Linked DNA regions of Homo sapiens. Changing the gene in region 1 together with any one later gene gives a genetic interaction. Each region holds a gene or a part of one and is shown in the gene's direction. Other genes may lie near its edges. The genes, in order: PTP4A3, SMARCB1, DAPK3 and INA.

Region 1 (7,674 bases):
CCTGCTCAGATGCAGTGCCTGGGACGTGCCTCCTGGATGCCCCCACGACAGTAGCTGCAGCACTGTCTAGGGGGGCTCCCGCTGCAGGTCCCAGTGATGCCTGGCACAGGTGCTCAATGAAAGTTTGCCAAACTCAGGGGCAGGGGGAGCCAGGAGCGCTTTCAGCTGCCAATGGGCGACACAGCTAGAGCATCCAGGCTTAGGGTAGCCCCACTGCTGCAAAGGTCCCAGCTCAGTGTCCCACCAAACTCCCACACCCTACCTCACTGGTGGTCTCAGAAGTCCAGGTCAGGCACTGCCATACCTCCACCCCAGCCCCCAAGGGGCCGGAGCTCAGCCTGCAGTGGCCTTCCCTCATCCTTGTAGGTGGCACCAGCTGCAGGCTTGGGAAGCCGCCCCACCCTGCCCACACCAAGTCAGGGCAGGCCTGGGTGCCCCACAGAACACAGTGAGGTGGCACTGGGTGGCCTCTGAGGTCAGATCACACGTGTCTTGCTCTCCTGGGTAGCTCCTTGTGGGGGAGGCCAGCCCCAGCACTGGGAGGACACCCAAGCATCCCTACAGAGGGGCGTCTTGAGGAAGACTCTGAAGCAGCAGCTAATAACCTGCATGGCCTGGCCAGCTGGGACAGTGAGAGGGTTCCGAAGGGGATCCCCCAGCCGCAGTCGGGCCCTTGCATGTCTGGAACCCTGGCCATCTGACTGCATCTCATGAGACCCCAGCCAGAGAACCGCCCCGCCCAGCCACTCAGAACTCTTGACCACAGACGCGGAGAGAGAGCAGGTTTTACAGGCACAACTAATACACAAATGAAAATGTCACCATCACAGTAGCGTGGCTGCATTAACGAAACTAGGGGAAGGAGGGAAATGAAAATGACTTTCCCAGCTCCTGCACGCCAATCCCCCGAGTCCTGGCCTCCCTCAAGCCCTGCTTCCTCTTCGCATCAGGGGCGTGGCTGCTTACGCTGGTTCCCTCGATAGCAGAGCCTGAGATAGGGACATTGGTGCAGGTGGTTTATTTGTGATGACCAGGTGAGGGAGCCAACACAGGTGTGTTATGGAGGTCTCAGCTGGTTTCAGGACCTCCTGAGAAGTGTGCCGGACACCTGAGGAAGGTCCTTCTGCAGATGGGAGGCAGGTGTATCCGCCAGAGCCCTGCCACACTGCGGAGGGCTGGCCCTCCTCTGCCCTTCAGGGCTTGGTACACACGGAAGGCAGGCACTGAGGAGGAGGGTCCAAGCTCGCTCAGAATGGGCCACTGCCACTGAAATCAGGGAACAGAGGGGACGTGAAGTGGCCCAGAGAGCATCGTTCCGCACACTTACTCTCTTCCTAGATGTATACTCCTGCACCCCGCTCCTGTTTACCTAACTAACCACTGAACAACAAGCTCTTTTTTATTTTGTTTGACGCTCAGGGCTTGAGGAGGATTCAAAAGGACAGTCATAAAGACATCTACTTCTGCGCAGGCAGAAGCAACGCAGCACTTGACAGCCACCATCTTGTGGGTCTTCCCAAGAGCCCTGTGAGGTTGGAGCTATTACTATGACATTTATAGATGGGGAAACTGAGGCCAGGAGAGGTCAAAGTGTGCAGCCCAGTGATGGGGGCTCAAGAGCTGCTGCTGGTGCCATTAGCCCACCCATGCCCTCCGTGGCTGGATCTAGGTCCCCCAGCCTGGGCCCCTCCTGTAGGGCCCTGCTGGGCTGGAGGAGGCTTTCCAGAAATCCACTTAACGCTGACCTCGTCTTTGTCCTCCTTGGAGCTAATCTGCTAATCCTGCCAGCCCCAGTGGGCCTCACCACTGTCTAGATCGTCCTGCATGGTTGGCATCCCTCTCCAACAATCCCCCACCTGCGGGGGCCTCCTCCTGGCCATGCCTCCAGGGCTGGGCAGGTCCAGTGACTGGGGTAGGTGGAGCTGGGATTCTTTCTGTGGAACATTCCTCAATCCTGGGGGAGATTCTGGAGTCTGGAATTCAGGAGACTGGGCCTGGCTTCTGACCCCACCTTTTCACGGCTCAGCCATCATCTCTGAGGCCCCGTTTTCTCCTCTGTAAAACACGATCACTTTGAGCTCTCTTCCGGCTATGAAATCCCAGGATTCTCCCCAAGCCTGTTCATGCCCGGCCCATTCCACTCACAGCAGTTGGACAGCTCTGGTTTCACCGTGCCTGGGTTTGAATCTTGATTCTGCTTTCGCTTAGCTTCTGCTTCCTAATCTGCAAAATGGGGGTGTCAGGGATTCCTCTGCAGGGCTCAGTGTGGACTTGGTGGGTGGGTGTAAGTCCCTGGCATGTGGTCAGCACTCGGTGAATGTCTGAGAACTGAAATGAATCCAGCATGGAGGAGCCTCCTCCTTTGCTCCCGACTCCCTGCAGGATGGTAAGAGCGTGGGGAGGAAGGAGGCTCCAGCCTCTCGGGAGCCCACTCACCCCAGCAAATTTGGGTGGCTGGGATAGAAACCTCTCTGAGATTTTGGGCAGGAGAGGAGGAAAATAGCATGAAACAGGCAGGGGGTGTTGGTGCTGCTCAGGCTAGATGAAGCCAAACATTTATTTATTAATGCTTTTTTTTTTTTTATCTTTTTTGAGACAGGCTCTCGCTCTTTCACTTAGGCTGGGGTGCTGGCGGGATCAGGGCTTACTCTAGCCTTGTCCTCTTAGGCTCAGGTGATCCTCCCACCTCAATCTCCAAGCTGGGACTATAGGAGCATGCCACCATGACTGGCTAATTTTTTATTTTTTGTAGAGATAGGGTCCCACTATGTTACCTAGGCTGGTCTTGAATTCCTAGGCTCAAGTGATCCTCCCGCCTCAGCCTCCCAAATTGCTGGGATTATAGTGTGAGTCACTGTGCCCGGCCTTAAGCTAAACATTTAAAAAATAAGAATTAAAATGCAGCCACAGTGAAACGGGAAGGGGCTGCTTTTACAGGTGCTGAACTTCCCGGCAATAGAAGCATTTAATGGGAGGTTCCCTTTTTCCTAGGACCTCAAAGCTGGAGTACCAGGGATGTTGCCTTGACCTTCCCATGTGTGGATTTCTGCTTGAACACACCAAGTACAGGACACCCTGTTTAGCAGCTAAACGTGGGAATTGCACCAGCTTTACTCCCAACTTGCTGGGCAATCTTCGGGAGTTGCTGACCTTCTCTGTGTCTCATCAGCAAAACAGGGAGAACACTAGCTCTCCCAACATGGGCTGTGTGAGGACCAAATGAGCTGAGGAGCCCAGATTTGAACCCGGGTCTGCAAGGTTATGTCCTCTGAGCCATCCCCACCCCTGCCCTTAAGGACCAGGGGCCTCTGGACACCATCAGCTTGCCCACCTGTCCAGGATTTGCACGCACCTGCTCGGTGCCAGATGCTGGGCACTGGGGACAAACCAGGTGAGGTGTGGACCGTGACCTGTGTTGTCACTGATTGGGGGACTTTCTGGCAGAGTGGAGAGTGCAGTGGGCTGAGAGACAGGATGGCCAGTGGAGACTGAGCTCTCAGAGGCGGCGGCAGCTGATGGGGACCATGCAATGGGAAGGATGGAGGCCCTGGGATAGTCTGCGGTGAACTTCCAGGCAGAAGGAACAGCAGGTGCAAAGGCCTTTAGCTGGGAAGGAAACTCTGGGTTGGAGGAATAGCTTGCAGGCGCTCTGAGAGAGGCTGGCAGCCAGGTGGCAGGGAGGCAGCCCAGTCAGGTGGTCTTGGGACAGTTTAGGGTCTCTGGCCTTCACCAGTGAGGTGGTGTCTGGAGACTTTTGCAGACGAAGGCAGCTCTCACTCCCATCTTCCCGGGGTCCCTCTGGCTGCTGAGGGTGGATGGGTGGAAAAGCATCTTTCAGGGAAGTGGAGGCAGGGCTGGAGCAGTTGAACATCTGACTGGGCCAAGGGTCCAGGGACTGGCATGGAACAGGGCTGGGTGGGTGAGGCCGCCTGGGAGACCCCAGCTTGCCTCTGTTTCCCCCTGTACTGGGGCCTCCTGCGTGAACCAGCACTGGTTTTTCCAGTAACTGGAGCCACAAGCCTCCCTAGGAACGGCTGACCCATAAGAGGACGTCCTCAAGGTCCCCAAGGGCTAGAGGCTGAGATGCCGCCTTCGCCTGGGCGGGCCTCGCAGCCTGGAGGCAGGCGGTGGTGCAGCTCGGGCAGGCCCCGTCCACACGCCTCCCCGCTCTTCTGAGCACCACGCGTCCCGTGGGCTCCCTACCCGTCCTGATAACACGGCGGTCCGGGGGCCTCGAAGCCGGTCTGACCCCAAGTACCCGGGCCAGGCGGCTGCCGTCTTGTCGCCCCAGCCCATCCCCTCAGCCAGCCCGCCTGGCGGCACGGGACCTAGCCCCAGTCGACTTAGGGGGAAACTGAGAACTCCAGAAGTTTCGTGAACTCCCTGGCTTCGTCCGCATCCCGCCCTCTGCCTCTTCGCTCGGGCTTCAAAACTGCCCCTCCGACGCCCGCCTGCCCCAGGCCGACCTGGCCTAGGCGCCCGGCAGGCACAGGAGCCAAGGTCAGTCCCCGAGGCCGCCCGCGCGACCGGAGCCGCCTCCTCCCAGCCCAGGGGCGGCCTCGGGGGCGGCGGGCGCGCGGCCGCGGCGTGGGGAGCGCTCCCATTGGGCCGTGCCCCCACGTGACCCAGCGGGTCCGGCGCGCGCCCTAAGCCGGTGGAGCCGCGGCCGCGCCTGTGCGCGAGGGCGCGCGCGTCCCGAGCCCTCCACCCGTCGTGCCGGCGCCGCCCGGACCGCCAGGTCAGTCTCCTCCGCGCCCGCTCGGGGCGGGGGCGCGCGGCGCTTTGTGGAGGCGCGTGGGGGGCCGTCCGCGCGCGAGCCCGCCGCCCGCTCCGGGCACGGCTTCGGGGCCGCGCAGCCGGGAGGGCCGCCGCCTTCCCCCTGCCCGCGCGTCCCGGGACCCTGCGCCTGGCGGCCGATCCGGCGGGAACGTGGGCCTGGAGGCTGCCACGTGCCGGGGCCGAGCCTCAGGAGGCCGCTGTTTCCCCAGGCGAGCCACAGAACACCCCTGGCTGGAAGGGGGTGACCCGCTCCCGTTTCTGGGTGCGCGGGAGACCTCCTACCCTGAGTTCATCCTGCGCAGGGTCCCGCCCAGGATCTGGCTCTGCCCCCATTCACGGCTCATTTTCCTCAGCTGCACAGTTTGGGGGGCTGGAACCCCACAGCCTTCCGTGCCTCCAGGGCGGGTCGTAGATGTCAGTGGAGGTCAGGGGAAAGCAGAGCGTCAGGTCTCAGGCCGGGTGGAGTCCGCCTCAGACCATACCAGTGTTGGGACTCGGGCGGCGCCTCAGCCCTCCAAGCACACCCCGGTAGAATCAGGTCAGCAGCCTTGATCCACGTGCCTCAGGGATTAAACGGGTGACTCCTGACACGCCCCTGGGCAGCTGGTGGCCCAGGGGTGGGGTGGTGGCATGCTTAGCTCCAAGTGGGCAGAGCAGTTTCACCCTGCCGGTTCCCGGAGGGAAGCCCTTTATGAGGGAGGCTTCCCTGGCCCTCTGTGATAGCGGCTCCAAGGGCAGCGTGAGGTCCAGGCTAGCTGGTCACAGTGTGTGCCCGGGCACCCTCAGCCAAGACAGAAAGGCACGTGCTGCACCCCCTCTCTCTGCCTGCGGGCTCTGGGGTGTGCCCCGCACACGATGGTGGGTGTTGGGCATCCACCTAGTCTGTGGACCCTGGGGGCCCTGCTCCCAGGTTGGAGCAGTGTCCTCGGCTGCAGACCAGAGGAGGTCACTGAACACAGGGTGCCTGTGGCCTTGCACAGACAGAAGCCGCCTGGCAGCCCTGTGCAGAGCCGTGCTTCACTGAGTTCCTGCAATCCTCCCAAGAAGTTCGTTAACCCCATTTCTCAGATGAGGAGACTGAGGCCCACAAAGGTGGAGTTGGTGCAGCCCCTAGCCTGCGGGGCTAAGCAGAGCCTTGTTGTCCCCATCTGCAAAGGGGGCGTTGGAGCTGCTGTAAATGGGCCCCGAACCTGTCACCTGAGTGGAATTAGGCATTGGGGATCTCCCCATCACCACGCCGGCCCCCCTCACTGTGGTTACGAAGGAGGAGAAGCTGCCCTGTGTAGGAATTCCTGGGCTGTTTCCAAATAGCCCCGCTAGGGAGCTGGTCACCCCTCAACACCCCCAACGTGTTCTCCAAGCACTTACTCTGTGCCAGGCCCAATGCTGGACCTGGAGATGGGGCATGGCTGGCTGGCTGAGCGGGGCAGGTTGCGGACAGGCCCCCGCAGGCAGTCGGCGTGATGGGAGAAAATGCAGGCGGGGATGAGATGCAGCCTCCAGGTGGTTTCCTCAGCTGCCTGCTCCTCTCTGCCTTTGCCCTCCTCCCGGAAGCTTGCGCTGACCACTGGAGTAAGGCTGGGGGCCTCAGCTGGTCCCCTCTCTGTCCCAAGTAACAGCCCAGAACATGGTGAGGGTGGCTGGCTGATGCAGTCAGGCACTGGACATGGGAGGCAGGAGGAAGGCCGGGAGGTGGGCAGCTTTCTCAGACAAGTGGGCAGTTTGGATGGCGAGGAGGTCTTGGAGGCACCATGGGTGGCTGGGCTCAAAGATGACATGAGGGCATGCTTAACAGATGCTTAACCAAATCCTGAATTGGCATTGGCCAATTTCTGTGGTGTAACTACTCCCAAGCTACACAGACGTGACTTTACTGGCTGAGGACTTGGGCAGAGGTGCACACAGTCAGACTGAGAGGGGGGCATAAGCTGGTGTGAGCCCTCCCTCTCACCGCCAGGGTGGGCAGAGTGTCCGCTGGTGCCCAATGCCTATGCACGTGACCTCCTTAGGGACTTACATCCAGATGGCGGTGATACAGCTTGGGGAGGCCTCTCCCTGGTTGGCAGGTCCTGGCGAAAGGGTGAGTTAAGTGGAAAGTGTACCAGGCTGGTGTCCAGGTGGCATTTGGCCAGAGGGGCTGAGCTGGGAGCTCCTGGGCCTGGGGCTGGCAGATAGTGGTGATTTTTCGCCCCCCAAGACCTTGGGCTTGCCTTGTTCCATGAAGGTCCCAAATCTGACCAAAGGCTGTAACCAGATGGTCACTGTCCCAGACCACCCCAGGGCGCTTTCTCACCTCGAGAGCACCGTTTCTCCCCACCTCCACCCTGGCCGCCCTTGCTGTCACCTACTCCCTCTGGTCCCTGGCACCCCTCCCTGCCTGCAGTGGTGTTTCCTAGCAAGTGCAGCAGCCCGAGGCTGGGCTAGAGGCAGGAGGGCCTGGCCTCCCAGTGTCTTGCTGGATACTTGGTTTCTTGCCCCTCCGTTTCCACACCTGTAAAATGGGAGCAATGACAGGTCTTCCTGGCAGGACAGTGGTGAAGCTTGGTCACACGGGTGAACATGTGTGAGGTAAAAAAGACTTCCCATCCCTCCTTCTGACCTGGACCGGCTCGCAGGACCCATAGGCAGGGACCTGGGCAAGGTCCGAGGGCCGATGAGCCCCGTCCTCTCTGCACAGTTCAGAGTTGGGTGGGAGTGGCTGTGGGCTGCAGGAGGAGGTACTGCACTTCGCACAGTTACGTGGTCGGGTTGGCATCGCCGCCGCCTGACTTCGGCGCCCCGCGAGTTGGGTGTGTGCGGTTGGGGGCGGCCCAGAGTGTGCCCCACGCCTGCCAGTCGGGTAGGCCAGCCTCCCTGGAGAGAGGGGGGCCTCCCCAAGGTGGGACGGGGACAGGG
Region 2 (6,845 bases), on another chromosome or scaffold:
CAGGCCTCTGAGGCTCTGGGTACCTGTCAGGCTGGGTATTAGCCCAGCCCAGATTCCGGGGCAGGCAGAAGGGCTCCCTAGAGGGAAGAGAGGTTCTGAAAGGCCGGCCCTGGATCCTGCAGGACTCGAGGAACTCAGCAGTGGCCAAGGGCTTCCCACTCAGCCCTCCCTTAGTGCCCATCCCTGGGCACAGCCTGACAGGCAGGAGTAGGGCCCAGTGTCCGCTCGCCCAGGCTTGACCACCTTCTCTTCTCAGGCTATGCCTACTTCCTGCGCGGCCGCCTCTACTGGAAGTTTGACCCTGTGAAGGTGAAGGCTCTGGAAGGCTTCCCCCGTCTCGTGGGTCCTGACTTCTTTGGCTGTGCCGAGCCTGCCAACACTTTCCTCTGACCATGGCTTGGATGCCCTCAGGGGTGCTGACCCCTGCCAGGCCACGAATATCAGGCTAGAGACCCATGGCCATCTTTGTGGCTGTGGGCACCAGGCATGGGACTGAGCCCATGTCTCCTCAGGGGGATGGGGTGGGGTACAACCACCATGACAACTGCCGGGAGGGCCACGCAGGTCGTGGTCACCTGCCAGCGACTGTCTCAGACTGGGCAGGGAGGCTTTGGCATGACTTAAGAGGAAGGGCAGTCTTGGGCCCGCTATGCAGGTCCTGGCAAACCTGGCTGCCCTGTCTCCATCCCTGTCCCTCAGGGTAGCACCATGGCAGGACTGGGGGAACTGGAGTGTCCTTGCTGTATCCCTGTTGTGAGGTTCCTTCCAGGGGCTGGCACTGAAGCAAGGGTGCTGGGGCCCCATGGCCTTCAGCCCTGGCTGAGCAACTGGGCTGTAGGGCAGGGCCACTTCCTGAGGTCAGGTCTTGGTAGGTGCCTGCATCTGTCTGCCTTCTGGCTGACAATCCTGGAAATCTGTTCTCCAGAATCCAGGCCAAAAAGTTCACAGTCAAATGGGGAGGGGTATTCTTCATGCAGGAGACCCCAGGCCCTGGAGGCTGCAACATACCTCAATCCTGTCCCAGGCCGGATCCTCCTGAAGCCCTTTTCGCAGCACTGCTATCCTCCAAAGCCATTGTAAATGTGTGTACAGTGTGTATAAACCTTCTTCTTCTTTTTTTTTTTTTAAACTGAGGATTGTCATTAAACACAGTTGTTTTCTACCTGCCTGCTTGGTCTCCTTTTGTGAATGTTCAGCCAGGATGGGGAGGCCTGGCCACTGTCCAGCCCTATCCTGGGAGCCAGGGTCGAAGTCCACCACCCCCAAGCCTCTGGCCCTTGGGGCTGGGCACAGTGCTCAGGGCTCCTTCTGCTCCATTTCTACATCACATTTTGCTACAGTGGCTTCTTAACTGGCTCCCCACTTTCCTACTTGTCCCCTCTGTTCATCCTCCAGAGTGGTGGTTTATCTGCTCATGCCACAGCCCAGCCTGCCATACATAGCTGTGGTTTCTGCATCCGTAGGCTCAACTAACCTCGGGTAGAAAAAACAATGTTTAAAAAAAGGATGCGGACGGGCGCAGTGGCTCGTGCCTGTAATCCCAGTTCTTTGGGAGGCCGAGGTGTGTGGATCACCTGAGGTCAGAAGTTTGAGACCAGTCTGGCCAACATGGTGAAAACCCATCTCTACTAAATATACAAAAATTAGTTGGGTGTGGTGGCTCATGCCTGTAATCCCAGCTACTTGGGAGGCTGAGGCAGGAGAATCACTTGAACGTGGAGGCAGAGGTTACAGTGAGCTGAGATAGTGCCATTGCACTCCAGCCTGGGTGACAAGAGCAAAATTCCGTCTAAAAAAATAATAAAGTAAATAAATAGGCTGGGTGCAGTGGCTCATGCCTGTAATCCCAGCACTTTGGGAGGCTGAGGCCAGCAGATCACGAGGTCGGGAGATCGAGACCATCCTGGCTAACACCATGAAACCCCGTCTCTACTAAAAATACAAAAAATTAGCCAGGCGTGGTGGCGGGCGCCTGTAGTCCCAGCTACTCGGAAGGCTGAGGCAGGAGAATGGCGTGAACCCAGGAGGCGGTGCTTGCAGTGAGCCCAGATCATGCCACTGCACTCCAGCCTGGACGACAGAGCAAGACTCTGTCTCAATAAAATAAGTAAATAAATAAATAAATAAATAAATAAATAAGGGATGGTTACCTCTGTACTGAACATGTACGGACTTTTTTCCCTATCATTGTTCCCTAAACAATAGTATAACAACTATTTATATAACATTTGCATTGTATTAGGTAGTATAAGGAATCTAGAGATGATTTAAGGTATACAGGAAAGTGTGTGTAGGTTATATGCAAGTATGACACCATTTTATATAATGGACTTGAGCATCTGTGGACTTTATTATCTGCAGGGGGTCCTGGAACCAATTCCCATGGATACTGAGGGATGACTGTACTTTGGTTTCCCACCACTGTGAGGATACAGAACAAAGCAACTTCAGTCACTGCCCTTCCCAACTCTCCAGTGTCTCCTTGCCCTACCTTCCAGCCCCATGTGTGTCTTCGTAATAGCATAGTTGCATTTTTTTTTTTTTTAAGAGAGGCAGGGTCTCCCTTTGTTGCCCAGGCTGCAGTGCAGTGGTGCAATCAGCTCACTATAACCTTGAACTCCTGGGCTCAAGGGATCTTCCCCTCTCCACTTCCCAAGTAGCTGGGGCTACAGGTGCACACCGCCATGCCACACCCAGCTTATTTATTTTAGAATTTTTGTAGAGACAGGGTCTTGCTGTCTTGTCCAGTCTGGTCTCAAACTCCTGGCTTCAAGTGATCCTCCCTGCCTTGGCCTCCTAAAGAGTTGGGATTACAAGGCCGGGCGCAGTGGCTCACACCTGTAATCCCAGCACTTTGGGAGGCCGAGGGGGGCGGATCACGAGGTCAGGAGATCGAGACCATCCTGGCTAACATGGTGAAACCCTGTCTCTACTAAAAATACAAAAAATTAGCTGGGCGTGGTGGCGGGTGCCTGTAGTCCCAGCTACTTGGGAGGCTGAGGCAGGAGACTCCAGCCTCAAAAAAAAAAAAAAGAGTTGGGATTACAGGCATGAGCCGCTGAGCCCAGCCACAGCTGCAATTTCATTAGATTGAACGGTGTGAAATCATCAGTAGTGGGCCACTGTTTTACTCCCTGCATTATTCAATCATGATTGCTTTCAGACTTTCATTAGTTTCACTAGCTTCGCGCTGTAAGAGCCAAGAGGCAGAGCCACAGGGCTGGGCTGCCTGGTTTCACTCCCCACTGCAGGGCTCGGTTAAGCAGAGTGTAGGCTAAGAGAGGAATGGAGAAGGTGGAAGGTGTCTCTCCCTTCCAACGCTCATCTGATGCACCAGCCAAACCAAATACCACCTGGGCCTTTGAACATTGCCAAGCCTCATCCGCTGTTGTCATTTTGCCCACCTCCACAGCTGCAGGGACAGCCGTAGGCCCGGAACTGGGATATCTCTTCCTAGGGGCCTGCCTATCTGCTCAGCTGCACTGCGTTTTAGGGGTGGGGAAGCTAAGGCACGAGATTGGGGTCCCAAAGCATGCCCAGACCACCCAGGCTTCCAGATACTAGGTCCTCCTCCTTCAGGCCTCACTTCGTTGCTTTTCCCCTGGGCTCAGTTCCAGTCCTGGCTGTAAGACTGGGAAAGCCACTGCTTGAGTCAGGACCTCATTGGCTATTTTTGTCCGTGAGAAGTCCTCTACACCACGACTTGGGAGGCAGCCTGGGAGAAAGAGAAATTAGTCGTGGCTCCTTTAAGGGGTCCGCGGAGGCGCGCCCGGCCTTTTGTTTGAGCGGCGGCGCGCGCGTCAGCGTCAACGCCAGCGCCTGCGCACTGAGGGCGGCCTGGTCGTCGTCTGCGGCGGCGGCGGCGGCTGAGGAGCCCGGCTGAGGCGCCAGTACCCGGCCCGGTCCGCATTTCGCCTTCCGGCTTCGGTTTCCCTCGGCCCAGCACGCCCCGGCCCCGCCCCAGCCCTCCTGATCCCTCGCAGCCCGGCTCCGGCCGCCCGCCTCTGCCGCCGCAATGATGATGATGGCGCTGAGCAAGACCTTCGGGCAGAAGCCCGTGAAGTTCCAGCTGGAGGACGACGGCGAGTTCTACATGATCGGCTCCGAGGTAGCCCGGGGCGCGTTCTCGCCCTCCCCGGGCTCGGCCCCGCGGGAGCCCCGGGGCGGGCCCATGCGCCGAGAGCGCGCGTCTCCATTCATCGGGGCGGGCGGGCGCGCGCGCGCGCGCTCGGGGCTGTGGGGCGTGGCCTAGTGGGCGTGTCGGGTGTGGCCCCCGCCCCCTCATCGACCTGGGATTTCCTTACTTATTTCGCCGAGGTCCGCCGCCTTCAGTGCTGCCAAGATTTTGGCGCCGCGAGGGGCCCCAGTGGTTCCGCGCTGGGTTGGTTTCCAGTCAGACGCAAAGAAACGGGATATTGAGTTAGCCCCTGCGACGCTTGGGGGACTGCACTGCTGCCTTTGACCCTTTTTAGATGTCGTAAATTTCACGTGCACCCCTCCCCGTATTGCTACTTGTGGGAACCTCAAATGGCAGGCTGGAAACCCTGGACTTAGTGAGGGCTCATCCCCATTGTGTTTGTTGCCTCTTAGGTGAGCAGTGGAGGTCTTTTGACCTTTGTTTACCGGTGAAGAAACAGATTGGAGGAAGATGTTTGCTTTTGGGTGAATAAGGGCCCCATGCCTAAGCTAGATCTTTCAGCAGTTCTGAAGCGATTGACACTTTCCATATCTGTGAACTGATTCTGAATTATTACAGGGGAAAGAGCCTAAGGATGTTTAACCCTTAACTAGAGTGGCTGCATTTTGTTGCATCAACTGGATGACTGACTTCAGGAAAACTCTACTGGCCTTTGAATGGGTGTTTGTTCCAAGTCTATTAGGTTCTTGTTTTTTGTTTTTTATAGAGACAGGGTCTGGCTATGTTGCGCAGGCAGGTCTCCAACTCCTGGGCTCAAGCAGTCTGCCCGTCTGGGTCTCCCAAAGTGCTAGGATTACAGGCATGAGCCACCACACCCGGCCATATATTAGGTTTTTACAGATTGTCTCAAACTAGCCTTTTTTGCTCCAAAGGCAGTCCCCAGCTAGTATATGTTACCTTTTTAAAAAAATTATGGATATACAGTTCAGATGTACAAATGTCAAGCAGTAGAATCTCATGTAAGGAAGTAAGTGCCAATCCTGGAGAATTAAAGCTATCATGAAATGCCAAGAGTTTCTTCTCCTTATAGCAGTTTTTAGTATCATATTCCAGCATTTTATTCGTACTTTATTTTCTTTTATTTTTGAAAAAAGATCTCACTTTGTGCAGTGGTGTGATCTCGGCTCACTGCAGCCTTGACCTCCTGGGCTCAAGCGATCCTCCTGCCTCAGCCTCCCAAGTACCTGGGACTACAGGTGTGCACCACCGTGCCCGACTAATTTTTGTATTTTTTGTAGAGACAGGGTTTTGCCATGTTGCCCAGGCTGGTCTTGAACTCCTGGGCTCAAGTGATCCTTGCACCTCAGCCTCTCAAAGTGCTGGAATGACAGGTGTGAGCTACTGCACTCACACTCAGCGCATTCATACTTTTTAAACTTGTGGGTTTTATCCTTCACAATTGAGCATAGCATGAATGAATGAAGCCTCAAGATGGTCACACTGAGTCCCATGGATGAGACTAAGGTCAATAGCATCAGAACTTTAGTGTTAGCATTTTCCACCATTTTTTTTTTCTGGACGAGGTTTGACTCTATCACCCAGGCTGGAGTGTAGTGGTGTAATCTCGGCTCACTGCAACCTCCGCCTCCCAGGCTCAAGCCGTCCTCCCACCTCAGTCTCCCAAGTAGCTGGGACTACACGCACACACCACCACACCCGGCTAATTTTTATATTTTTAGTAAAGATGGGGTTTTACCATATTGTCCAGGCTGGTCTTAAACTTGTGAGCTCAAGTGATCTGCCCGCCTCGGCCTCCCAAAGTGCTCGATTATAGGCGTGAGCCACTGTGCCTGGCCTCCACTAATTTTTATAAAACAAAAAATATAGGATTCAATAAAATTTTCACGTTGTCACTTAAATTACAACTGTTCAAAGATGCCAGTGCTGGGGAGGTAGAGCCAGTGCCTGTCCATCTGCCACAGTTCAGAATGGTCCTCATTGGCCAGTAGGCACCTGCCTAACTGCAGAATGCAAAAGGTGTCAAATTTCAGCCTGTGATACTAGGCGAGTTGTTTACCTGATCTAATGGGTGTAAAAGTAATCAGTTTGGCTCTAAGTAGGTGACACTTCAAAAGAAAGCTTTCATTTATTAGTTGGAGCAAATTGAGAAGCTGTGCGTGGCCAAGTGGGAAGAACCTTGGGAGGCCTGGTTCCAGCCCTGCTCTGCCTTGCTGTCGTGTTTCTCATGTGTATAATGTGATGCTTAGACTAGATGGTCTCCAAGATCTTCCCCAAAACACATTTTAGTTTCTAGAAAGCTAATTACAGTCTTGTCTTTCAGCCCCTTGACTCCTGGGCCTCCCAGTAAGAATAATCTTCCTGAGACCCAGGCTGTAAGAGACTCAGTTGGAGAGGCAGTTTGTTCTTTTGGGCCTGACTTAATCATCAGACCTTCGGAGTTTAGGGAAGAGTTCAAGGTCAGAGCTCTATTGAAATTCAGTAGCTCCAGTGATAGTAGTGGATGGACGGTCTCAGCCCACTGCCCTGTGGAAAACAGGCACTGTATTCAGAGAGGTGGGCCAGCCATAGCAACATACCCAGTGCCTCCATGCGCCATCTGTGGAGCTGTCTTGGGAAGGCATCTGCATTTACTAAGAGTGTGTGTCACTGTTCTGCCATTAACAGACAGCTGTATTTACCAAGCCGG
Region 3 (3,181 bases), on another chromosome or scaffold:
CCAAGCAGGAGACGCTCACCAACATCTCAGCCGTGAACTACGACTTCGACGAGGAGTACTTCAGCAACACCAGCGAGCTGGCCAAGGACTTCATTCGCCGGCTGCTCGTCAAAGATCCCAAGTACGAGGGGCCGGCAGGGGGCACGGGGTGGGACATGGGACACAGGCCCACTCCACCCACGGAGGCTCCAGAGGACTCTCCTCCCAGCGCCACCTCCCTGCGGCTGGGGATCAGACATTGCTTACCCCTTGGGCTGGAGAGAGTAAACTGATAAACTGGTGGCCCAAGCTGGCCATTGCCATGGTTTTTTTTTTTTTTTTTTTTTGAGACGGAGTCTTTTTTTTTGAGACGGAGTCTTGCTCTGTCTCCCAGGCTGGAGTGCAGTGCAGTGGCGTGATCTCGGCTCACTGCAGCCTCTGCCTCCCGGGTTCAGGCTATTCTCCTGCGTTAGCCTCCCAAGTAGCTGGGATTATAGACGCCCGCCACCACGCCTGGCTAATTTTTGTATTTTTAGTAGAGACAGGGCTTCACCATGTTGCCCAGGCTTGTCTTGAACTCCTGACCTCCTTGGTTTGTGATTTGCCTGCCTTGGTCTCCCAAAGTGCTGGGATTGCGGGCGTGAGACACCGTGTCTGGCTGCTTGCTGTGTTTTTAGCAAACTTTTAATTAGTTGCCGGTGTGTAAAGTAAGGATCCATGTAAAATTCCAGGTCACTTGTTTTCCTGTAAACACTTAGAATTCTGGCAGTGCTGAGCCCTCACTCGTAGGCCTCCCCGGGCCTCCATGGCCGCCCAGTCCCTCTCTCGGGCGCCTGGGTTTGCGACTCCAGCCTGAGGTCTCAGCTCTCTCCACCACCCCCCAGAAAACCCCACGCTCCCTGCAGTACCCTTGTTCAGCTTCTGTGGTTGGCTGAGCAGAGGCTGGGGGGCGACTTTAGGGCTTTTGGGGGTCCCGGGAGTCAGTTGTTCACGGGAGGACGGGACAGATGGTGCAGGTGTACCTAACCAGAGCGGGGGTCTTCCAGGCGGAGAATGACCATTGCCCAGAGCCTGGAACATTCCTGGATTAAGGTAAGTGGGGAGGTGGGGGAGCTCCCTGGGCTTCCCGCCTTGGCCTTCTCGCTGGGGTCCCGGGGGGCCTTCAGCATTTAAGGCTTGTGGATGTGACAACCCCCAGTGGCTGGGGAGGGTCCCCAGAGGAGTGAGCCTGTGTGGCGGGGGTTGGGTCCTGGGCGTGGGATGTCCAGCACCCGACAGACCTGGTGGCATCCTTGGCTGGTGTGTGTCCAACGGGGCTGACTCCTGGGGCCAGGGCCGCAGCGTTTTTCTCGAGAGAGCACTCTCGGCTTTGCGTCGGGCTGGGCAGTCTCCGTCACGAGGCGTTGACTCTGCTGCCGGATGAGCCCCTGAACCTCAGTTCACACTGGCAGGTGGGGGCTGGCGGGGCTGGGTGGCATCGCGGGGACCCCGCTCAGGCTTCCCTCCTTCCTAGGCGATCCGGCGGCGGAACGTGCGTGGTGAGGACAGCGGCCGCAAGCCCGAGCGGCGGCGCCTGAAGACCACGCGTCTGAAGGAGTACACCATCAAGTCGCACTCCAGCTTGCCGCCCAACAACAGCTACGCCGACTTCGAGCGCTTCTCCAAGGTGCTGGAGGAGGCGGCGGCCGCCGAGGAGGGCCTGCGCGAGCTGCAGCGCAGCCGGCGGCTCTGCCACGAGGACGTGGAGGCGCTGGCCGCCATCTACGAGGAGAAGGAGGCCTGGTACCGCGAGGAGAGCGACAGCCTGGGCCAGGACCTGCGGAGGCTACGGCAGGAGCTGCTCAAGACCGAGGCGCTCAAGCGGCAGGCGCAGGAGGAGGCCAAGGGCGCGCTGCTGGGGACCAGCGGCCTCAAGCGCCGCTTCAGCCGCCTGGAGAACCGCTACGAGGCGCTGGCCAAGCAAGTAGCCTCCGAGATGCGCTTCGTGCAGGACCTCGTGCGCGCCCTGGAGCAGGAGAAGCTGCAGGGCGTGGAGTGCGGGCTGCGCTAGGCGCAGTGGGGTGGGCCAGGCCCCAGGACAGCCGGAGCTCGGCCTGCGGTGGGGGCGCTTCCTGTGGACGCTGCGCCTCCCATCGCCCGGGTGCCTGTCCTTGCCCAGCGCCACCAGGCTGGAGGCGGAGTGGGAGGAGCTGGAGCCAGGCCCGTAAGTTCGCAGGCAGGGGTGGGTGTGGGACGGGGCTGCTTCTCTACACAGCCTCCACGCTGGCCTTCACCTTCACCCCTGCATCGTCGGTGACCCTGGGACCCTCCAGGCAGCGTGGCCTGTGGCACCGTGAGGGTTGGGACCCACCGAGGCGCAGAGGCGGCCCGAATGCAGCCCTGGTTCAGGCCCGGAGGAGGGTTTGCGGGTAGTTGCACGGACAATTCGGCGGGGTGCTGCCTGTTGCTGCCATTAGCCCAGGAGGAGGTCGTGGGACGGGGAGGGTGGGATGGACGGCGGACAGGCAGTCCCCACGCTGCTGGGTGGCGCCGGGCTTGGTGGGGTCTTCCACTGTGTGCCCTTCTCGCCGAGGCCGGTCCCCCGGGTGTGGGGTGCCCTGCTGCGGACTCCTCCGCGAGCCCCATCGTCGCGCCTGTGGACGCCTAGGCAAGAGCGGCCCTCTGCAGCCAAGAGAAATAAAATACTGGCTTCCAGATACGCGGGTGTTGTGTGCCTCAGGCCTTGGCAGGGGACAGCCAGCCCTTGGCCACTGGGGATATGCCCTCCGCGGCGTTCATGTTTCTCTCTGTGTTCCATGCCTGCCGCTGTGCTCAGGAAGGAGGGGACAAACCGGGGGTCCTCGCAGACCTTCACGGTGTCCTGGGAGCTGCCGGATCTTGGTCTCAGCTGCCCCGAGTGTTTTGATTGCAATGAGGTGGAAGCTCTGGGCAGCTGAGGTGGATCAGAAGCGTTTCCTGTCCCTTTGCGCCTTACGGGATGCTGCTGTGTCCCACGTGGGAGCCCCTGCCCCGTCTGGAGCCACATGCAGGTGGCCCTGGAGGGGGAGCGGCTCAGCTCAGCTGCTAGGGCTCACAGGTGGTTTCAGAGAGGGGCCCCGACCCTGTCCATCCTCCCTGGAGGAAGTTTTTTTGCTTTTTTTTTTTTTTTTTTTTTTGAGAGCGAGTCTGGCCCTGTTGCCCAGGCTGGAGTGCAGTGGTGCGA
Region 4 (7,034 bases), on another chromosome or scaffold:
CTGTAAAAGGCTTTCATCATTAGACAATGGTAGCGTCATCCAGACATGGTCTACAGGAAACAAACAAAAAACAACAACAGAGAAACTGCAGCATCTGCAGCTCTGCGGTGCTGCCCCCATCAGCTTGAGCCTTTAGAGCCACAGAGGACCTGCTGATGGGAGTGGAAGAGGAGGTCAGACAACAGAGAGCTGGTTCCCTACTCCTTGGGACCTAAGGCTAAGGTGGAGCTCAAGTCTTACCTGCAGATCCTAACGGCCTGATGCCACAAGGGTGTCTCTGACTGTTCTAACAATCTTAGCAGTGCTGACCAAGGTGAAAAGCCTCCCTTTCTACAGTGAGATTTAGCCATTGTTTTCTTGCCCTCTCATCTCATCCCCACCTTTCACTGCAGTAATGGGAGGCTGTTCTCCTTCTTCTGCTACAGAGATTAGTGGTAGGGCCATTTTTCTTTTCAAACTTGGCACCCTCTATGAAACATAGGAAGGCCCCATTAAAGTCCCATCTTCTCTGCCCCAGATAGCTGATAGCCTATTTAAGGAGAGAAAGCTTCTTACACTTTTGAAAGGGTAAAAAATGATTCACGGTGACACAGTAAGTACACAATAGTGGATGAGAGAGTCTGAATCAGGCAAGAGAAGAGATTAGGAAGAGCTAAGGCTATTGTCTTCAAAAGCCAAATGCAACTCCCCTCTGCATAAAAAGCTGATGGGGTTTCCATTTCTGACATAGGGCAATGCTGGTGCCTACATAGCCACTTCGGCACCATTAGAGTCCTAGTTCTGTTAAAGATGTCCAAAGACATTCTTGGAGGGTACTCAGGGTCTCAGACCTCTACTGTGGTCAGTCTTGGAAAGTTGAAGCTTTCCTTGAAAGACCTTGCTGAATGATCAAGATCACCGCAGGTTAATGCTCTCCAGGGAGACAAGCCAAGTCTTCTCTTTTTTCTCCATTATGAGATTGGAGTACAGCCTAATTAAATAGCAGGAAGGGGCTGGCCCCTTGGAGACTGGAGGTGACAGTGGCTGCATATAAATCCATAGCTTGATAGATCCATTTCTAAAATTAGCTACATTTGATCTTTTTTAAGCTCTTCCACCTGGTTTTTGTTTCATTTTGTTTTGTTTGCCCCTCCCTATCTTACTGTATTACTGTCACCTGGGCTACCATGATAGCATCTTTATAGAAAAAAATTTAAACTAGTGGATCCTAAACCCAGTGACACTCTAAGGTCAATTGGGGGCTTAAAAAAATTATCAGGCCCACTCCCAAAGATATGGATTCAGCAGTTCACAGGTAGGGCCCGGGAATATGCATTTTTCAATAAAAGTGCTGCATCCTGTTGGTCCTCAGACTGACTTTGGAGTACATTGATCTAAACCACTTCTTCCAGTAAAGTAGTTTACGGAGATACGTATAATACAGGATTTTCGAGTGTGGTGGAGGAAAGAAAAAGATGGGGACAAAGGAAAGGTAGGAGTGAGAATAAAGCACGCATGGTGAACCACAAATAAAAATCCTCCGTCCCCACTCAAGTTGATTATGCAGAGCAGTAATTCTAAATAGCCTCTTTCAATCAGACTGTGGGGCACTCACTACTGCCTCCCTGACCCAGGGCCCCCAAACGTGCTGAAATCCACAGCTCTGTCGTTCTTCTTCACCACTGCAGATGTTAGTGTGGCCATTCATTTCTCTTACTCCACCCGGCATCCTTCCAGCCACGGGCTGCGATGCTCAGACGAGCTAAGACGATGCTCAGCGTTTGTCTTAGCTCCTCCAGGAGAGACCCCAGCTGGAGCTGGGCGTGCCGCTCTCCGGTTCCCTCAGGCTAAGCCGGCAGCAGCTGCGTGGTTGGGGGAGGGGACAGACTGCAGCGCTCTGCTCAGATCTCGAGCTGGAGGCCATCTTTGGCAGGGCTTCTGAAGGGCAATGCAAGACACAGCCTGATGTGGGGAGGAGAGCACAAACAAAGAGACCAGACATTGAAGAGCAATCAATGGTCAGAACACAGCACACTTCCTTCTGAAAGGAGCAAAGTTGTGCTTTTCTCTACAGTGATCTGTAAAATAGATATATGAAATCTGCAACATAGAAGTTCAAGGAAATCTCATCTGTCTAGAACTCAGCTCCCCAACCACCTCTTATTCAGAAAACACAGCTGTGAAACAAAAATAATGTTTTAAGCAAGGACCTAATTAACCTGCTGATGAGACATATCATCTATCTCTAAGCCAAACATTAGGAACTTGGCACCTCTACTGCCCCCAGCCTATTCATTCTTAACACGATTTCAAAATGCTTTTTTATTTGGTTTCAAGACTGCAGCAAGATGGAGAATGGGGACCACTGGAGTCAGGCATTGTTAAGAATGAGCAGCAGCAGATCCGTTCATCTTTCAGAACAAAGAAAATCAATGAGCATCAACACTAATCCAAACACCGCACTTTGGGGCCATTTAGGGTAGAATTAAACAGCCTGATATACCTCGAATGACCTAAAAGATGTCACCGAATTATTTTTAAAATTGATTATTATCATGACCCTTAATTGCTGTGGAAGGTGGCATTATGTTTAGTGTCCTGATTGTGAGTGGTATAAGCCACTTTAGAAAGGCTTTTTATTCAAAATTGTTATTAAAAAAAAAAATCTGGTGCTTTAAGGTATATGCCTCCAACTATCCAATATTAAAGTGTTGTTATATGTTACTTTTCGTAGTTATCTAAGGGGTTGGTAATAGTGAGGGCTTGTGATTAATTTGTCTATATCATCAAAAGGATAGAGGGCCATGTGGTATGATATTATCAAGAATAAAAATCACTAACATTTATTGAGTTCTTCCTGTGTGCCATGCTGTTCTGATGCCTACTAATTTAACAGATAATGGACTCATCATATATTAATGTATATGTGAGATATATTAAATTGAAATCCTAATTTGAGGATCTCAGAACACCTTAGAAAAAGAGTAAACATAACTTTCCGTATGCAGAAGTAGAAGATTGGAAGGAACTAAAATGTAGAAAACTGGCTGAGGTCCAATGGATGTTAGTGGCAGAGCAAAAACTGCAACCCAAGTTCCTGATGAAATCCTCCTCTTATCTTCATATAGCATTCCTCCTCCTTCTTTGCATAATCATATTTTCTTCTTTCTCCTTTTTCCCTCACTCTAGACTCTTTTCCCTCTTACCACAGTAATATTGATTCTCTTGTCAGTAGCTAGAGGGTCTATGTCAGTGATTCTATGTCAGTAGCAGAATTGATTATAACCTCAAATAGGAACTATCAGGTAAAATTTCTTGGTAAAAATCTCTTTAAGGCCTCATGATCTCTTAACACACTTTGAAATATATGCATCACGGTCCAGTATAATACGTATTTTTCCTACTGACTGTCATTCCTTGTTCTGTACCCATCAGTCAATTGAGACTCCTCTTTGCAGTATTCCTGTCAATATTTATAGAACAGGTAGGTGGTATGAATTTTAATTCTGCAAATTCTCTTGATTTGGAAGTTTGTACCCCCTGATGTCTCAGCCCTACCTTTCACCATTGCTTTATCATTCTCACACAAGGGGAGTTTCAAGGGCCTGTCAACACTTACTTTCTTGAGGTTTCTGATATGTTTATCTGCATCACTGTTTCTTTTTTTTTTTTTTTTTTTGAGATGGAGTTTTGCTCTTGTTGCCCAGGCTGGAGTGCAATGGCACGATCTCAGCTCACTGCAACCTCTGCCTCCCAGGTTCAAGTGATTCTCCTACCTCAGCCTCCAGAGTAGCTGGGATTACAGGCACACGCCACCACGCCCAGCTAATTTTTGTATTTTTAGTAGAGACCATAGTTTCACCATGTTGGCCAGCATAGTCTCAGTCTCTTGATTGACCTGAACTCCTGACCTCAGGTGATCCACCCGCCTCAGCCTCCCAAAGTGCTGGGATTACAGGCATGAGCCACCATGCCCGGCCCTGCATGACTGTTTCTTAAAAATAACCCCCAATCATTGTGTCTTTTTTTTTTTTTTTAAGACGGGGTCTTGCTGTGTCGCCCAGGCTGGAGCACAGTGGCGCCATCATAGCTCACTTCAACCTCCGCCTACCGGGCTCGAGCAATTCTCTCAGCTCAGCCTCAAGTGATTCGCCTGCCTCAGCTACCCAAAGTGCTGGGATGCCCTAGAGATGTTTTCTTGTTATCGCAACTGGGAGAGGGAAGTATGTGCTTCTGGCATCTAGCCAGGGATGTTACTAAATATCCCGCATTTCACAATAACAAATAATTAGCCAGCCTAAAACATCAACACTGCCAAAGTTGTAAAACTCTGTTATAGAGGAAAGCAACAGAAAATAAACTAGTATAAACCAGTAAATTGCCGGGGCCGGACACTGTGACTCATGCCTGTTATCCCAGCACTTTGGGAGGCTGAGGCGGGCGGATCACGAGGTTAGGAGTTCAAGACCAGCCTGGCCAACATGGTGAAACCCCATCTCTACTAAAAATACAAAAATTAGCCAGGTGTGGTGGTGCACACCTGTAATCCCAGCTACTCAGGAGGCTGAGGCAGGAGAATTACTTGAACCCAGGTGGTGGAGGTTGCAGTGAGCTGAGATTGCGCCACTGCACTCCAGCCTGGGTAACAGAGCAAGACTCCATCTCGGAAAAAAAAAAAAAGAAGAAGATAATTTCATATAATGGTAAGAGCTGAGAGCAGGGTGGCTGCATTCAACTGAGTGCTTTTTTTCTAATTTGCACAAGGTTCCTGCATGGGCCAGTAGCTGCTCTGGCTTAAGGTAAAATAAAGTGCTGGGTTGGTCGAGGATGGATACTTAAATTGGATGCAAATGAAGACCTGTCTGAGGAGAGGACATTATATTTTATTTTATTTTATTTTATTTTATTTTTTGAGATGGAGTTTCATTCTTGTTGTCCAGGCTGGAGTGCAATGGCACGATCTCGGCTCACTGCAACCTCCGCCTCCCAGATTCAAACAATTCTCCTGCTTCAGCCTCCCTAGTAGCTGGGATTATAGGCATGCACCACCACGCCCGGCTAATTTTTGTATTTTTAGTAGAGACAGAGTTTCTCCATATTGGTCTGGCTGGTCTCGAACTCCCAACCCCAGGTGATCCTCCCGCCTCAGCCTCCCAAAGTGCTGGGATTACAGGCATGAGCCATCGTGCCTGGCAGGAGAGGACATTTGAACTGAATCTTTTTTGAGACAGAGTTTTGCTCTTGTTGCCCAAGCTGGAGTGCGGTGGTACGATCTCAGCTCACTGCAACCTCTGCCTTCCAGATTCAAGCGATTCTCCTGCCTCAGCCTCCCAAGTAGGTGGGATTACAGGCGCTTGCCACTGCACACAGCTAATTTTTGTACTTTTAGTAGAGACGGGGTTTCTCCTTGTTGGTCTGGCTGGTCTCGAACTCCCGACTCCAGGTGATCCTCCTACCTCAGCCTCCCAAAGTGCTGGGATTACAGGCATGAGCCATCATGCCTGGCAGGAGAGGACATTTGAACTGAATCTTTTTTTTTTTTTTTTTGAGATGGAGTTTCGCTCTTGTTGCCCAGCTGGAATGCAGTGGCGCGATCTCGTCTCACTGCAACCTCCCCCTCCTGGGTTCAAGCGATTCTCCTGCCTCAGCCTCCCAAGTAGCTGGGATTACAGGTGCATGCCACTGCACCCAGCTAATTTTTGTATTTTTAGTAGAGACGGAGTTTTGCCATGTTAGCCAGGCTAGTCTTGAACTCCTGATCTCAGGTGATCTGCCTGCCTCAGCCTCCCAAAGTGCTAGGATTACAGGTGTGAGCCACCACACCCGGGTGAACTGAATCTTCTATGACAAGGAGTCGGCCATGTAAAGACCGGCATTTTAGATAGAGGAAATAACAAGCCTGAAGGGCCTGGGACAGCAATGAACTTGGTATAGTTAAGGAGTAAAAGAAAAGACCAGGCTGGGCATGGTGGCTCATACATGTAATCTAAGCACTTTAGGAGGTAAAGGCAGGAGTGTCTCTTGAGGCCAGGAGTTCAAGACCAGCCTGGACAACATAATGAGACCTCATCTTTACAAAACAAAAATCTTTTTTAACTAGCCAGGCATGGTAGTGTACACCTGTTAGTCCCAACTGCTTGGGAGGCTGAGACAGGAAGATCGCTTGAGCCCAGGAATTTTGAGGCTGCAGTGAGCTGTGATCACACCACTGTACTCCAGCCTAGGCAACAGAGCAAGACCTTGTCTCAAAAAAAAAAAAAAAAAAAAAAAAAGAATTCCTTCTGGCTGCTCAAGGACTATAAATATATAAATATAAAGCGATTTCTCTTCCATGCCTCGGTGTTTTAAAAATTCTGTGGAGTATTTCTGCTTTCTCCTTACCTATAATGTAAAATGCTCTCAGTAAAGTGACTGATTAGCAGGCTTCTAGGAAATCATCAAAATGAATGGAGGCAGAGAGGTCTTCCTGGAAAGCTCTCTGTGCTTTCCACATTCGGAATTTTCTGAATCTAAGCTGCTAACCTGAGGCTTTGGGTTTTGGAAAGCACATGCTACAACAGAGTTATTTAGCAGCAACACAACAAGCAAGGGAGGGATGGTAAGTGTAAAAAAAAAAAAAATCATCTCCATGTTCAGTTCAGAACTATATGCCGTGTGGCTATCCTGAAAAGGGCAGGTGTTCACTTGCCCTCTGGGTAAAAGTTCCCAGTCCTCACCATGAGTCCAAATCTCCTGGGGACCTTTATGAAAAAAATGCAAATGCTGGGACCCCACCCCAGAACCAGTGAATCTGGATCTGGACTCAGGGACAGACCTGGATATAAGCAAGTTATAAGTTCATTAGATGATTTTAATGTGTAGTCAGGGCTGGGAATCCTTGCCTTCTGGAAATCTTGAGGAATTTCAGCTGGTTTGGCCTAACTATTTTGGATATGTTACTTTTCAGGATAGCATTGGGCAGCTGGAGAATGATCTGAGGAACACCAAGAGTGAGATGGCACGCCACCTTCGGGAATACCAGGACTTGCTCAATGTCAAAATGGCTCTTGACATTG

The links.
Region 2: changes in PTP4A3 (region 1) and SMARCB1 together harm fitness less than expected from each alone (positive genetic interaction), as found in Homo sapiens cells (one study listed by BioGRID).
Region 3: changes in PTP4A3 (region 1) and DAPK3 together harm fitness less than expected from each alone (positive genetic interaction), as found in Homo sapiens cells (one study listed by BioGRID).
Region 4: changes in PTP4A3 (region 1) and INA together harm fitness less than expected from each alone (positive genetic interaction), as found in Homo sapiens cells (one study listed by BioGRID).

Annotation. Positions count from the first base shown.
Region 1 is NC_000008.11:141,387,347-141,395,020, forward strand, and holds the start of PTP4A3 (protein tyrosine phosphatase type IVA 3), read left to right. Parts: upstream 1-4,674; 5' UTR 4,675-4,738; intron 4,739-5,061; exon of another isoform or gene 5,062-5,275; intron 5,276-7,674. UniProt on the Homo sapiens protein: Protein tyrosine phosphatase which stimulates progression from G1 into S phase during mitosis. Enhances cell proliferation, cell motility and invasive activity, and promotes cancer metastasis.
Region 2 is NC_000022.11:23,783,155-23,789,999, forward strand, and holds the start of SMARCB1 (SWI/SNF-related matrix-associated actin-dependent regulator of chromatin subfamily B member 1), read left to right. Parts: upstream 1-3,811; 5' UTR 3,812-4,015; coding exon 4,016-4,108; intron 4,109-6,845. Other genes in the region: MMP11 (stromelysin-3 preproprotein), read left to right, coding at 257-390.
Region 3 is NC_000019.10:3,957,949-3,961,129, reverse strand, and holds the end of DAPK3 (death-associated protein kinase 3), read left to right. Parts: coding exon 1-121; intron 122-1,025; coding exon 1,026-1,071; intron 1,072-1,492; coding exon 1,493-2,029; 3' UTR 2,030-2,677; downstream 2,678-3,181. UniProt on the Homo sapiens protein: Serine/threonine kinase which is involved in the regulation of apoptosis, autophagy, transcription, translation and actin cytoskeleton reorganization. Involved in the regulation of smooth muscle contraction.
Region 4 is NC_000010.11:103,280,110-103,287,143, forward strand, and holds part of INA (alpha-internexin), read left to right. Parts: intron 1-6,925; coding exon 6,926-7,034. UniProt on the Homo sapiens protein: Class-IV neuronal intermediate filament that is able to self-assemble. It is involved in the morphogenesis of neurons.